3 linked regions of the Homo sapiens genome follow. The protein of the gene in region 1 interacts with the protein of each later gene in a pairwise test. Each region holds a gene or a part of one and is shown in the gene's direction. Other genes may lie near its edges.

Region 1 (3,334 bases):
CGGCTAAAGCAGATTGGAGCTCTGCAGTAACCACAGGTGAGTGGCAGGTGAGGTGCTGGGCCAGGAACATGGGAGACCGTGGAATTCTTCTGTCGTGGTTTGTTATACTGTATGACAGCATTCTGGTTGGGGGAAGAAATGATTTGGGGTGAGTTGAGGAATGGTGATGTCAATCACTTATGAATTTCACACTTTACAAAGAGATCGTGTCAATGAGAGAAATCCTTTCACTCAAGCTTCATTTAAGAAATATTTATTAAGCATGTGCCAGACACATGAGAATATAATGATGCATAAAATGATAACCTGGAACTTATATTTTAGAGAGGTAGACAGATCAAAAACAAGCAAATCCTGAAATAGAATAGAATAATGTGACAGAATATGTCATGGGGTGGGGAGAAAATTGAGCTAACATGGTAAGGGAGGGCCTTTCTCAGGAAGGGTTGAGCTGAGACCTGGTTAACAAGGGGACTGCTATGCAGAGATGAAGCAGAAGAGCTTTTCAGGCAGAGGGAATAGCAAGTGCAAAGGCTCTGAGGTGGCAACAGGTAAGGGATGTTCGTGGAACAGAAAGAAAGCAGGAATAGAGTGAATGAAGTGCAGTGAAAAGGAAGAATAGCGAGAAAGGTGGGCAGGGGCCAGAGCACCCAGGCCATGGTAAACAATTTGGATTTATTCAAAACGCAATGTGAAACACAGGTCATTTTGGCTTTACCTGTGTTCACTTGGCAAATCAACTCTATTTAATTGGCTTCCCAAAAGCCAAAACAAAGTTTTCTAAAATCAGTAACCTAAAGGAGATCTTTGGCTCTGTGGAAAACCACAGGGCGATGAACATTTCAGAAGGGAACCGTGATGGTTTTGGAGTCTGAGCTCCTCCCTCCCCCAGTTCCCCAGCACAGCTAGCGCTAGCTAGCTCCCAAGCAGGCCAATTCAGAGACCTGTACCCAGAGAGATGTAAATGCTGCTTTAGTTGAGGGAGAAATGAATGGTTCTTTAACCAAAATGTTCTTGGAGGGGTATCTATTGCCTGCTAATTAATAACTCATTTCTTGGGCAATGAGTATACATTATTTGTGATGGTTACTCAGCATAGCAACAGAAGGGGGAAAAAGGTCTGAAAAAATACCACTGATTTCTCTGAAATGAAATAGTCAATGCTATAAATCTTCTAATCAGAATTCTACGATATCATCACAGCAGGTGCACCCTATGTCTGTCTGAGTTCACTTCCTGGCCTTACCACTGGTACTAAAAGCACTCAAACCCAATTAATGGTTTCCTATTCTGGGACATGTTTAGCAATTTAGGCTTAGATTAAGAATGAGAGAAGATGGGAAATGTTATTTCTCCAACTGCTTCTATTTTGGTGTGGGCATTAGAGTCCCCCATATTCAGAAAGTCTCCTTATTTGCATTTGGCCTTTTCCTTCAGTGTTCTATGCTGTCAGTATTTTACTGGCAGCTGCATCTCAAGGCCATCTGCAACAGAGTGTGTTTAAATGGCAGGTGTAAGTGTTCTGGTAATGAGAGAAAGGAAGGATTTTGCCTTACAAGGAGATCCCTTCTTTCTTTCCTGGCAGAACAGGCCCCATGCTGACGTCCCTCCTCAAGAGCTGGATGGCATTGCAAATGATGACAGCACTTCTGGTGGATGAATTTGGGGGCACAAACAGCTTTTTTCCTCTTTTGGCTCAGTATTTAAAAGTGGACCAACTTGCTCTTAATCACAGGGCCAAGAAGGTTGACGGGCCATCTTGGTTTTCTTCTGGATGTGCTCTTTGGTTTTCAGAAGACTGTGACAAGTTCTGGCCCAGGATTCGCTCACTGACCCTCAATTGTCCTCTTTGGCATGCGTTTCTTACTGTTCTCCATGTGTCGGCATGTCTCTACCTCTAAGCCAGTGTTTTTCAACTATGTTTATCCAGACTCCTTCTCCACAATGATGAATCCACAGTTGGTTATCTGCTACTGCCCATTAGCTAAAATCATTTTGCTGCTTGACTTTATGGAGTTTGTATTATGAAATCAGTGGGTATTTTGAATGTGTTCTTTCTAACTACATGCATCTCTCCACTCAACTCCACCCCATCCCATCCCACCTTGAAAATCACTGCTCTGAACCAGTGTTCTCCACCTTGTCCTCCACAGATCTCATAGGAAATGTTCAACAATTCTGTGAAAGGTCACAGGACCCAATTGGAGAAATCATATGAAAAGCATAGTTGGTCTTGGTGTCATATGGATCAGAGGCACAAGTGCAGAGGCTGTGGTCATGCGGAACACTCTGTTATTTAAGATGGCTATCCAGATAATCCTGAACACTGTGTATTTATTTTATTTAGACTACCAGCAAAGATTAAAGCATGAAATGTAAAACATCTGATAAAACTTACAGCCCCCTACACCAAGAGTGTATCTGTGAAAGAGCTCCTACACTTTGAAAACTTAAGAATCCCTTATCATGAAGTTTGCCTGTTCTAGAATTGTAAGATTGTTAATTTCCTTCAATCTCTAGTGACAACACTTAATTTCTTTTCTAATAAAAAAAACCTATAGATGATTCAGTGATTTTTGTCCAATTCATTTGCATGTTCTCAAGACATTAAGGAATGTTATGCGAAATACACTAACTTAAAACTGTGTTTATATTTGGCCCTGCCATTATAAATAAAGACACGTGCTGCTGTCACTCACTGAGTACAAATGGCTGATATAATTTTGAAATTTCATATTGAAATAAATGCCAGCCCTGGCTTACTGAATAATGCTTAGGGTTTAATAACAGTCTTTTTCATTTCATATTCCTTTTTGCCATTTCCCACTTAAGGCCCTTGTACTTCTCGCTTCTTTCTTTTGTGGGCCCTAACCACTCCCTTCAACCAGGATTGCTATGATAATTGTTCAGTTTACACCAGGATTGCTATGGATAATTGTTCAGTTTACACACTGCACAATATGAAAGCCCTCCCACCGGAGGTTATAGTATCTGATCCACTCTGGACCACTTGCCTGCACTTTCACACTTCTTTGTCCATGTTCATTGTGTTTCTTTCTCCTGAGATGCCTTTTCTTCTTTGTTTTACTTTGAAACTCCTCCTCGTTCAAGGCCTGATTTACAGATCATTTCCCCTATATTTTCTCTCTCCTCTCATGGCCTTTTGACTGAAAAATCATCGTTCCCTCTTCTGGAATTCAAAAACACTGTGCATGTAGATACTCTACAGCTCTTATCAGGCTATGTTGTAGTTAATCATCTGTATTGGTCTCCTGCCAAATTCAGAAGTACCCAAAGGTGACTGGGCGCGGCAGGTCACACCTGTAATCCCAGC
Region 2 (3,745 bases), on another chromosome or scaffold:
CATGGGGATGGGAGTCTTTAATGCAGCTCCTCTCCCGGGATCCTGGGGGTGGGTCCTCCCCCTCTAAGCCCTAGAGAGCCCTCCAGCCTCGTTCTCCACATGCCCGACCTGGAGTGGGTGGGAAGAGGGAGAGGGTGGTGTGCGAGGAGGCAGCAGGTCACAAAGGGGTTACAAGCTCAGAGGGAAGGGGGATGGGAACTGGAAGAAAGTGTCACCCAGACCAGGGGTAGAAGAACTTGACTTTGGGGAGACTGAGAAAGACCACATGTAAGAGAGAGAGACATGGAAAATGAGGTAGAAACAGACAGAAACAAAGAAAGGCACAAAAATTAAGAGGCAGAGGAAAGGTGAAAATAGCCAGGAGACAGAAACTGCAGGATGAGAGAAATGAATAGAGAGAGACAGAGAGACTAAGACAGCAAAAGGCAGGAAGGAAAAACAGAAAATGAGAAGGTGTGAGAGAGAGAGAGATGGAGAGGTGGAGAACAGAGAGACTGAAATGAGAAAGAGACCTCTCGGAGAGAGACCGAGAGGAAGAGGCTGGCAGAGGGAGAGGGTCAGAGACCAAAGACAGAGACAAAAAGAGAAATAGGGTTTTGCAAAGACTGACTGACAGAAACAGATTTCGAGGGGAGAGAGATCAAGACCAAGTGAGGGTTTGAAGGAGACTTAGGGGAGGTGGAGGAAGAGAAGGAGAGTCTTAGATCCAGGGTGAGGGGCTTCTAGCAGGAAGAGGGAAGACGCCAAGACCGCGCTTGGGAGGTCAGTGGTGCGTCTCTACCCCCCCTGCTCCCCCACTCCAACTCCCAGAGTCTCAAGGCCTCACGTCACACCCCCGTCCCGTCCCGTCGACAAGGGGAACCCCGGCCTGGGAGAGGGCGCCTCCGGGGATCCGTTGCCTAGTCCAGGTACTGCCCAGCTACCGGGCGTCGAGGATTGCGAAGCGTCGGGGCAGGCTGGCACGGTGCCCACTTTTCCCAAAACGCCAGCCTTCCAAGCCCAGAAGCTCGCCCGGCCCAGGCCGGGAGCGGCCCACGTCGGACGGCCGGACCGCCCTGCAGGACCCAGCCCGGCCGCCCGCCCCCGCCGCCGGCGGTGAGGGAGGTGAGCGGCGCCGACCTGCGGGACGAGCATCACTCCGACCCAGCCGGGGGTGAGGCGGGTCAGGATGCTCCGGTCGCAGGAGGAAAAGGAGGAGCTGGACCAAAAGCCCGAAGAGAAGAAAAGGGGAAGGCCGCGCACGGAGCGCGGTAAAGGCCGGCGGAGCTAGACGCCCCGAGGTCGGAGTGAAGCGCCGGGACCGAGCCCCGTCTCCCAGGGAGTCCGGGGCGCACGGCACCGAGGAGAGCGCGGGAGCCAACCTGGGCGCATCATGCGCAGGGCCCGGGACGCTGGGCCGGTCTACACCGCCGCCTGGGTCACGTGGCCCGGACGGGCCGGCGGCTGCCCCGGCCGGGGGGCGGGGGTCGCGCCGGGGTTGCGCTGGACGACGGAGAGCGGCGGGCCCGCAGCGGCCTGGAGCCTCCCAACCCGCGCGCCGCGCTGGCCCCCGAGCGTAGGAGCCGCCCCCTGCCCCCCCGCGCCGGCCCCGCGCCCGGCCGCCCGCCCCCTATATAGCGCGCCCCAGCAGGGCCCGCGCCAGGCCGCCAGCCTCGGAGTGGGCGCGGGACAGTGCGCGGCGCCCCGCAGCCAGGCCCCCGCCCCCGCCGCATCCACCTCCTCCGCCGCCTGCGACCCAACGGGCGCCCCCCGCCGCGGCAGCTGCCGCCGGGCCCCCGCGGCCACCATGAAGAAGGAGGTGTGCTCCGTGGCCTTCCTCAAGGCCGTGTTCGCAGAGTTCTTGGCCACCCTCATCTTCGTCTTCTTTGGCCTGGGCTCGGCCCTCAAGTGGCCGTCGGCGCTGCCTACCATCCTGCAGATCGCGCTGGCGTTTGGCCTGGCCATAGGCACGCTGGCCCAGGCCCTGGGACCCGTGAGCGGCGGCCACATCAACCCCGCCATCACCCTGGCCCTCTTGGTGGGCAACCAGATCTCGCTGCTCCGGGCTTTCTTCTACGTGGCGGCCCAGCTGGTGGGCGCCATTGCCGGGGCTGGCATCCTCTACGGTGTGGCACCGCTCAATGCCCGGGGCAATCTGGCCGTCAACGCGGTGAGTGCCCTGGGGGGGGGGTGGGAGCCTCGACCCTGGGGTGGGCTCAGGACCAGGCCTCTTACCCCACCTGGAAAAAAGGGGTGCCGCAGAGTGGGCCAGCCCACACCCTTCACCAGGAAGGCAAGAGCCTCCCAAGGCCAGGAAGGCAACTCTCCAGGCTGATATGTGCTCCCTTCCTGCCCACCTCCTCTCCCCCTCCCCTCATGCTGGCCCACCCTGGTCTCTCTCCAATGCCTGCTACCCCTCCTCTCCTGCCAGAAACTTCTGCCTCCTCCTGTCTCACCTTTGAGCTCCACCTTCCTCCTGGGCCCCTCACCTCTCCCATCACCTCAGTGGAGCGGTTGAGTAGAACCACCAGAGAAAAGCGGGCTGTCATCACGGCTTTGGGTGACCCTGGCCTGTCTGTGCTTCATTGTTCTCAGCGCCTCCATGGGGATGGTTGTGTCTGCCACAGCAGGTGTCAAGGGGCTCACATTTAGAAACCGTAGATAGGAACCCCCTAATGTGGGGCCAGTGCAGAGCAGTTTCTGTTGAGTATTGGTTCCCTCTTTCCCCAACCTGTGCTCCTCCCCTCAACCCCGCACCCCTGCCTCCCTCCCACCTCCTGCAGCCCCAGAGTCAGCCCCCAACCCCATGCAAACTGGGTTCATTAATCAAACACAGAGGAGGATTTGCTTGGCCATTGTCAAGCTGTGAGTCAGCCGCACTGGAGAGACGGGTTTAAGGCTGGCACTGGCATGGGGCCAGGCACGGGCAGGAGGCCGGGATGGGGTGTGAGGCAGGCAAACCGGGCAGCTGCCCACAGGATGGAGGGTAAATGCCAGCTTATGGGGGCTGGGGGTTGGGCAGAGCCATTGATAGGCCCGTGTCCAGGAAAAGCTACCCTGACGCTCTGCCCTTTGGCCACAGGCCTGAGCTTCAAGCCTGTGCAAACTATGAAATGTACAGTGTCTTTAACAAATGGCTTCGCTGGGGCGATGTCCACAGGACTTGGCTTCCAGGTGCCAAGGTGCTCTAAGTGTCCCTGGAGGCCAAAAGCCCTACTCCCCGAGCCCCTGGCTATACAGCCAGAAGGTGGCCGGGGTCCTAACCCGCTATCCCCTTGCAGCTCAACAACAACACAACGCAGGGCCAGGCCATGGTGGTGGAGCTGATTCTGACCTTCCAGCTGGCACTCTGCATCTTCGCCTCCACTGACTCCCGCCGCACCAGCCCTGTGGGCTCCCCAGCCCTGTCCATTGGCCTGTCTGTCACCCTGGGCCACCTTGTCGGAGTGAGCAGTACCGACATTGGGCTGGGGTGAGGGTGGGGCAGGCACTCAAGGCAAATAATGGAGCCCTGGAGCGGAGCCCACTTCAGATGGATGAGTCCAGCAGAGTTTAAGGCCTGGATTTAGGGCTCCTGGACTCTGGCCCTACTGGGCCCCAGAATTGATCCCCCCAAAACCTCTGGGCTGAGGAAAGATGGGAGTAAGTAGGAGGTGGGATGGGACAGGAATCAAACCCAACCTCAGAGCAGAGAAGAGAGGAGGGCGTAGTTAAGGGTCCATGGTTAACCAAGCAGCTGGGATCCTTGGAGGGAGAGGTTGCCAGC
Region 3 (3,745 bases), on another chromosome or scaffold:
GTGTTTTATAAAAAGAAAGATTCTCGGACGTTGCCTCTGCTGTCTGCCTGGGGGACCGGGCGCCTCTGGGGTCCTCCCCTCGGGACACGCGGGCGAGCCTGGGGGCGAGGGGGGGGGGGCCCTTCCCTGGGTCCGCCCCGCCCGCCCCAGGCTCTCGGGTCCAGACTCCCGCCCGGACTGCGGCCTTCGGGCCAGGACACCCTCCAGGCGCGGGCACGGCCGCCTCCCGCCCCCCAGGCCCGGGTCCGACGGGGCGGGGACTCCTGTGTCTGCCCCCGGGCCCCCCTCGCTCTTCCGTCCTGGGGGCGGCCGCGGGGACTCGCGCTCTGATCCAAGGGGCCCGACACTCCCCAGGGCTGTGGGGTCCCGTCCCAGCAGGGAGTTAGTTGGGGGGCGTCCCAGGCAGGGTCTGGGGGCCGGGCGCACGCAGGCGGGGTGACGAGCTGGGGGGGCGGGGGGCGGTGTCGGAGCAAATACGGCGGCCAGGCCCAGCCTCTCGCGCTTTCCAAGAACCGCCCGCGGCCGCCGCCAGCTGCTTGGCGCTGACCCCGTTGGCCGGGCTGCCGTCACCCTGGGCCCGACGCCGGCGCGGAAAACGGGGAGGGACGAGACAGACACAGGCCGGTCTGGCTCGGAATCTCCTGCTCCTCTGCCCAATCCCCCACCCCCGCCCCGCGGGACGCCGGTGCCCGGTCTCGGTCCCAGCCCAGAGCCGCTCGCGCCTGGACGCCGGCCGCCCCGTCGAACCTTTGGGTCTCCGAGCTCCCCGCCCCCGCCCCCAATCAGGACCGGTCCAGACCTCCAGGCCCGGCGCTTAGCTCCGTTTCCCGTCCCTCCCGTCTCCCTCTCCCCTTTGCTGGGGCCTAGCCGGGGATTTAGGAGCCACACACCCTCCACCTCACGCGCTACCCTCCACGGGGCTTCCCGCAGCCAGGGCCCGCCCCTTCCCGGCTCCCCGGGAGACCCTGGCAAGTTCCCTCCCTCCGCCCCGCAACCTGGCACCCTCCGCGGCCCTTGCCTACCCACGCACCCCCTCCCCGCCTCCCCCTCCACCGCCCCATACTCACTGCCACGTCCCCATCCGGCCATCCCCTCCCAGCTCTCGGGGACACTGTCAGGCGAGCGACGCGTCTCCTGCGGCCCAGCTCAGCTGCCTGGGCCAGGATGGAGACTCCGCTCATGTGGGGCTCAGGGGTTTTTTGAGGATTCCATTTGGGAAAAAAGCCACCAGATCACTCACTGCCCAGCAGTGGGGGCTTGGGGACCCCCACTGCTACCCTTTCCTAAGCGGGAGCCCTGGCGCTGCCCTTCCCGGGCTGCCTGGGGCCCTCTTCGCTCCCCCCTCCGAGGACCCCGCCCAGCAGGCCATGCCCAGGCCTCTGCCCCTGGCCCACGGGACGCGGGTCCCCATGCCCCCGGCTGGAGACAGCAGGCAGCTCGGCCAACGGACGGGCCAGCTGGTTCCCTTCAGGGGCAGCCTTGCCCCCTCTCCCGCCCCGTCTCCCTCCCCCCCACCACACCGGGCTGTAACCCGAGCCGCCGAGCCACTGCCTCCCCTCCGGATCCTCCCCGGAGGCTCTGCGGCCCGGGCCCCCGCGCCTTGCTGCCCCATGCAGCCCTGAGCCCCACAGCAAGTCTGCCATGGGCCGCGGGGCCCGTGTCCCCTCGGAGGCCCCGGGGGCAGGCGTCGAGCGCCGCTGGCTTGGAGCCGCGCTGGTCGCCCTGTGCCTCCTCCCCGCGCTGGTGCTGCTGGCCCGGCTGGGGGCCCCGGCGGTGCCGGCCTGGAGCGCAGCGCAGGTGAGCGGCGGGGGGGAGGCCAGGTGCCGGGTTGGGGGGGTCCTCACGTCTGTGGGTCTGGTCTATCGGGGGGCCCGCAGGACGTGTGCGGGGTGTGCGGGGTGTTTGAGGGTCCGGATGTGCGTCCCGAGGTCGGAGGGTTGGACGCCCCTGTGTCCAGTTGTTGGGAGGGGTGGGAGGCCTCGCCCTGCTGTTCAGCCCCTTCCCCTCCACTGGGCCGCGTTCCCAGGGACGTGCAACAGGGCGCTCAGGTTAGGAGACCCGAAACCACAGGCAGACAGGACCCGCCACGCCCGCTCCCAGCCCTGGGCACCCCCACCCCCGTTTCCTTCCAGTCCATTTTCCGCGGCAGTTTTTGGTCCTGGGGACCGTCACCGATGCCTCCCACGCACGCTTTCTTCCCTGAAGGGAGACGTCGCTGCGCTGGGCCTCTCGGCGGTCCCCCCCACCCGGGTCCCGGGCCCACTGGCCCCCCGCAGACGCCGCTACACGCTGACTCCAGCCAGGCTGCGCTGGGACCACTTCAACCTCACCTACAGGTGCGCCCTGGCTGGGCCCCGGGGGAGGGGGCGCGGCCGGCGCCCGCTGAGCTCACTCTCCCTGCAGGATCCTCTCCTTCCCGCGGAACCTGCTGAGCCCGCGGGAGACGCGGCGGGCCCTAGCTGCCGCCTTCCGCATGTGGAGCGACGTGTCCCCCTTCAGCTTCCGCGAGGTGGCCCCCGAGCAGCCCAGCGACCTCCGGATAGGTGGGCGCCCGCCCCCGCCCCGGCCCGGCCCTGCGCGCCCGGCCTCTCAGCCCCGTGCTCCCCCCAGGCTTCTACCCGATCAACCACACGGACTGCCTGGTCTCCGCGCTGCACCACTGCTTCGACGGCCCCACGGGGGAGCTGGCCCACGCCTTCTTCCCCCCGCACGGCGGCATCCACTTCGACGACAGCGAGTACTGGGTCCTGGGCCCCACGCGCTACAGCTGGAAGAAAGGTGACCGTCCAGGCTGGCCTCCTGGAGGCCTCTCCTCTGCAGCACAGTGGGCTGCCGCGGTCGGGCTTTGGGGCAGACGGCAGGAGGGACCTTCCGGGGTGGTGGCTGCCACTGGAGTCTAGCAGGCAAGGAGGGGAGCCCGTGGGAGCCCCCATCCCGGCAGCCCTGAACTCCCTTTCCCATCCCCCTGCGCCTCTGGAGCGGGAGCTGGAGCTGCATTCCTGGGGGCCGAGCTCACCGCCTGGGCCCAGAACATTCTTATCTTTCCGTGGCTGCGGCCGAGGGCGGCTCCGCGGCTGCGCTCCAGCAGATACACCGGGCCTCGGGGAGCTGGCCCACGGGCGGCGGGGCTGGGCCCGGGGCTCCCAGGCGCTGACCCCCGGGGCCCGCAGGCGTGTGGCTCACGGACCTGGTGCACGTGGCGGCCCACGAGATCGGCCACGCGCTGGGCCTGATGCACTCACAACACGGCCGGGCGCTCATGCACCTGAACGCCACGCTGCGCGGCTGGAAGGCGTTGTCCCAGGACGAGCTGTGGGGGCTGCACCGGCTCTACGGTGAGTCCCTTTGTCGGGCGGGAGGGCGGGGACCGGGCGGTCCTGAGCCAGGCCGTGCTCCCCACGCTCCCGATAGGATGCCTCGACAGGCTGTTCGTGTGCGCGTCCTGGGCGCGGAGGGGCTTCTGCGACGCTCGCCGGCGGCTCATGAAGAGGCTCTGCCCCAGCAGCTGCGACTTCTGCTACGGTGATGCCCACGGGGCCGGGACAGGGCTGCGTGGGAGCTGGGCCTTGGCCATGGTCGGGGCTGAGGGGGCACTGACGGGGCTCTTTCCCCCACCCGGAGCAGAATTCCCCTTCCCCACGGTGGCCACCACCCCACCGCCCCCCAGGACCAAAACCAGGCTGGTGCCCGAGGGCAGGAACGTGACCTTCCGCTGCGGCCAGAAGATCCTCCACAAGAAAGGGAA

The links.
Region 2: the proteins of GLRX (region 1) and AQP5 interact in a two-hybrid assay, tested with the Homo sapiens proteins (one large-scale study listed by BioGRID and IntAct).
Region 3: the proteins of GLRX (region 1) and MMP23B interact in a two-hybrid assay, tested with the Homo sapiens proteins (one large-scale study listed by BioGRID and IntAct).

The regions. Positions count from the first base shown.
Region 1 is NC_000005.10:95,813,209-95,816,542, reverse strand, and holds the end of GLRX (glutaredoxin-1), read left to right. Parts: coding exon 1-30; 3' UTR 31-36; exon of another isoform or gene 37-47; intron 48-1,585; exon of another isoform or gene 1,586-2,153; 3' UTR 2,154-2,694; downstream 2,695-3,334. UniProt on the Homo sapiens protein: Has a glutathione-disulfide oxidoreductase activity in the presence of NADPH and glutathione reductase. Reduces low molecular weight disulfides and proteins.
Region 2 is NC_000012.12:49,960,232-49,963,976, forward strand, and holds the start of AQP5 (aquaporin-5), read left to right. Parts: upstream 1-1,640; 5' UTR 1,641-1,786; coding exon 1,787-2,149; intron 2,150-2,435; exon of another isoform or gene 2,436-2,693; intron 2,694-3,260; coding exon 3,261-3,425; intron 3,426-3,745. UniProt on the Homo sapiens protein: Aquaporins form homotetrameric transmembrane channels, with each monomer independently mediating water transport across the plasma membrane along its osmotic gradient. Plays an important role in fluid secretion in salivary glands.
Region 3 is NC_000001.11:1,630,578-1,634,322, forward strand, and holds the start of MMP23B (matrix metalloproteinase-23 precursor), read left to right. Parts: upstream 1-1,595; 5' UTR 1,596-1,641; coding exon 1,642-1,797; intron 1,798-2,205; coding exon 2,206-2,336; intron 2,337-2,403; coding exon 2,404-2,543; intron 2,544-2,610; coding exon 2,611-2,778; intron 2,779-3,170; coding exon 3,171-3,335; intron 3,336-3,411; coding exon 3,412-3,522; intron 3,523-3,624; coding exon 3,625-3,745. UniProt on the Homo sapiens protein: Protease. May regulate the surface expression of some potassium channels by retaining them in the endoplasmic reticulum.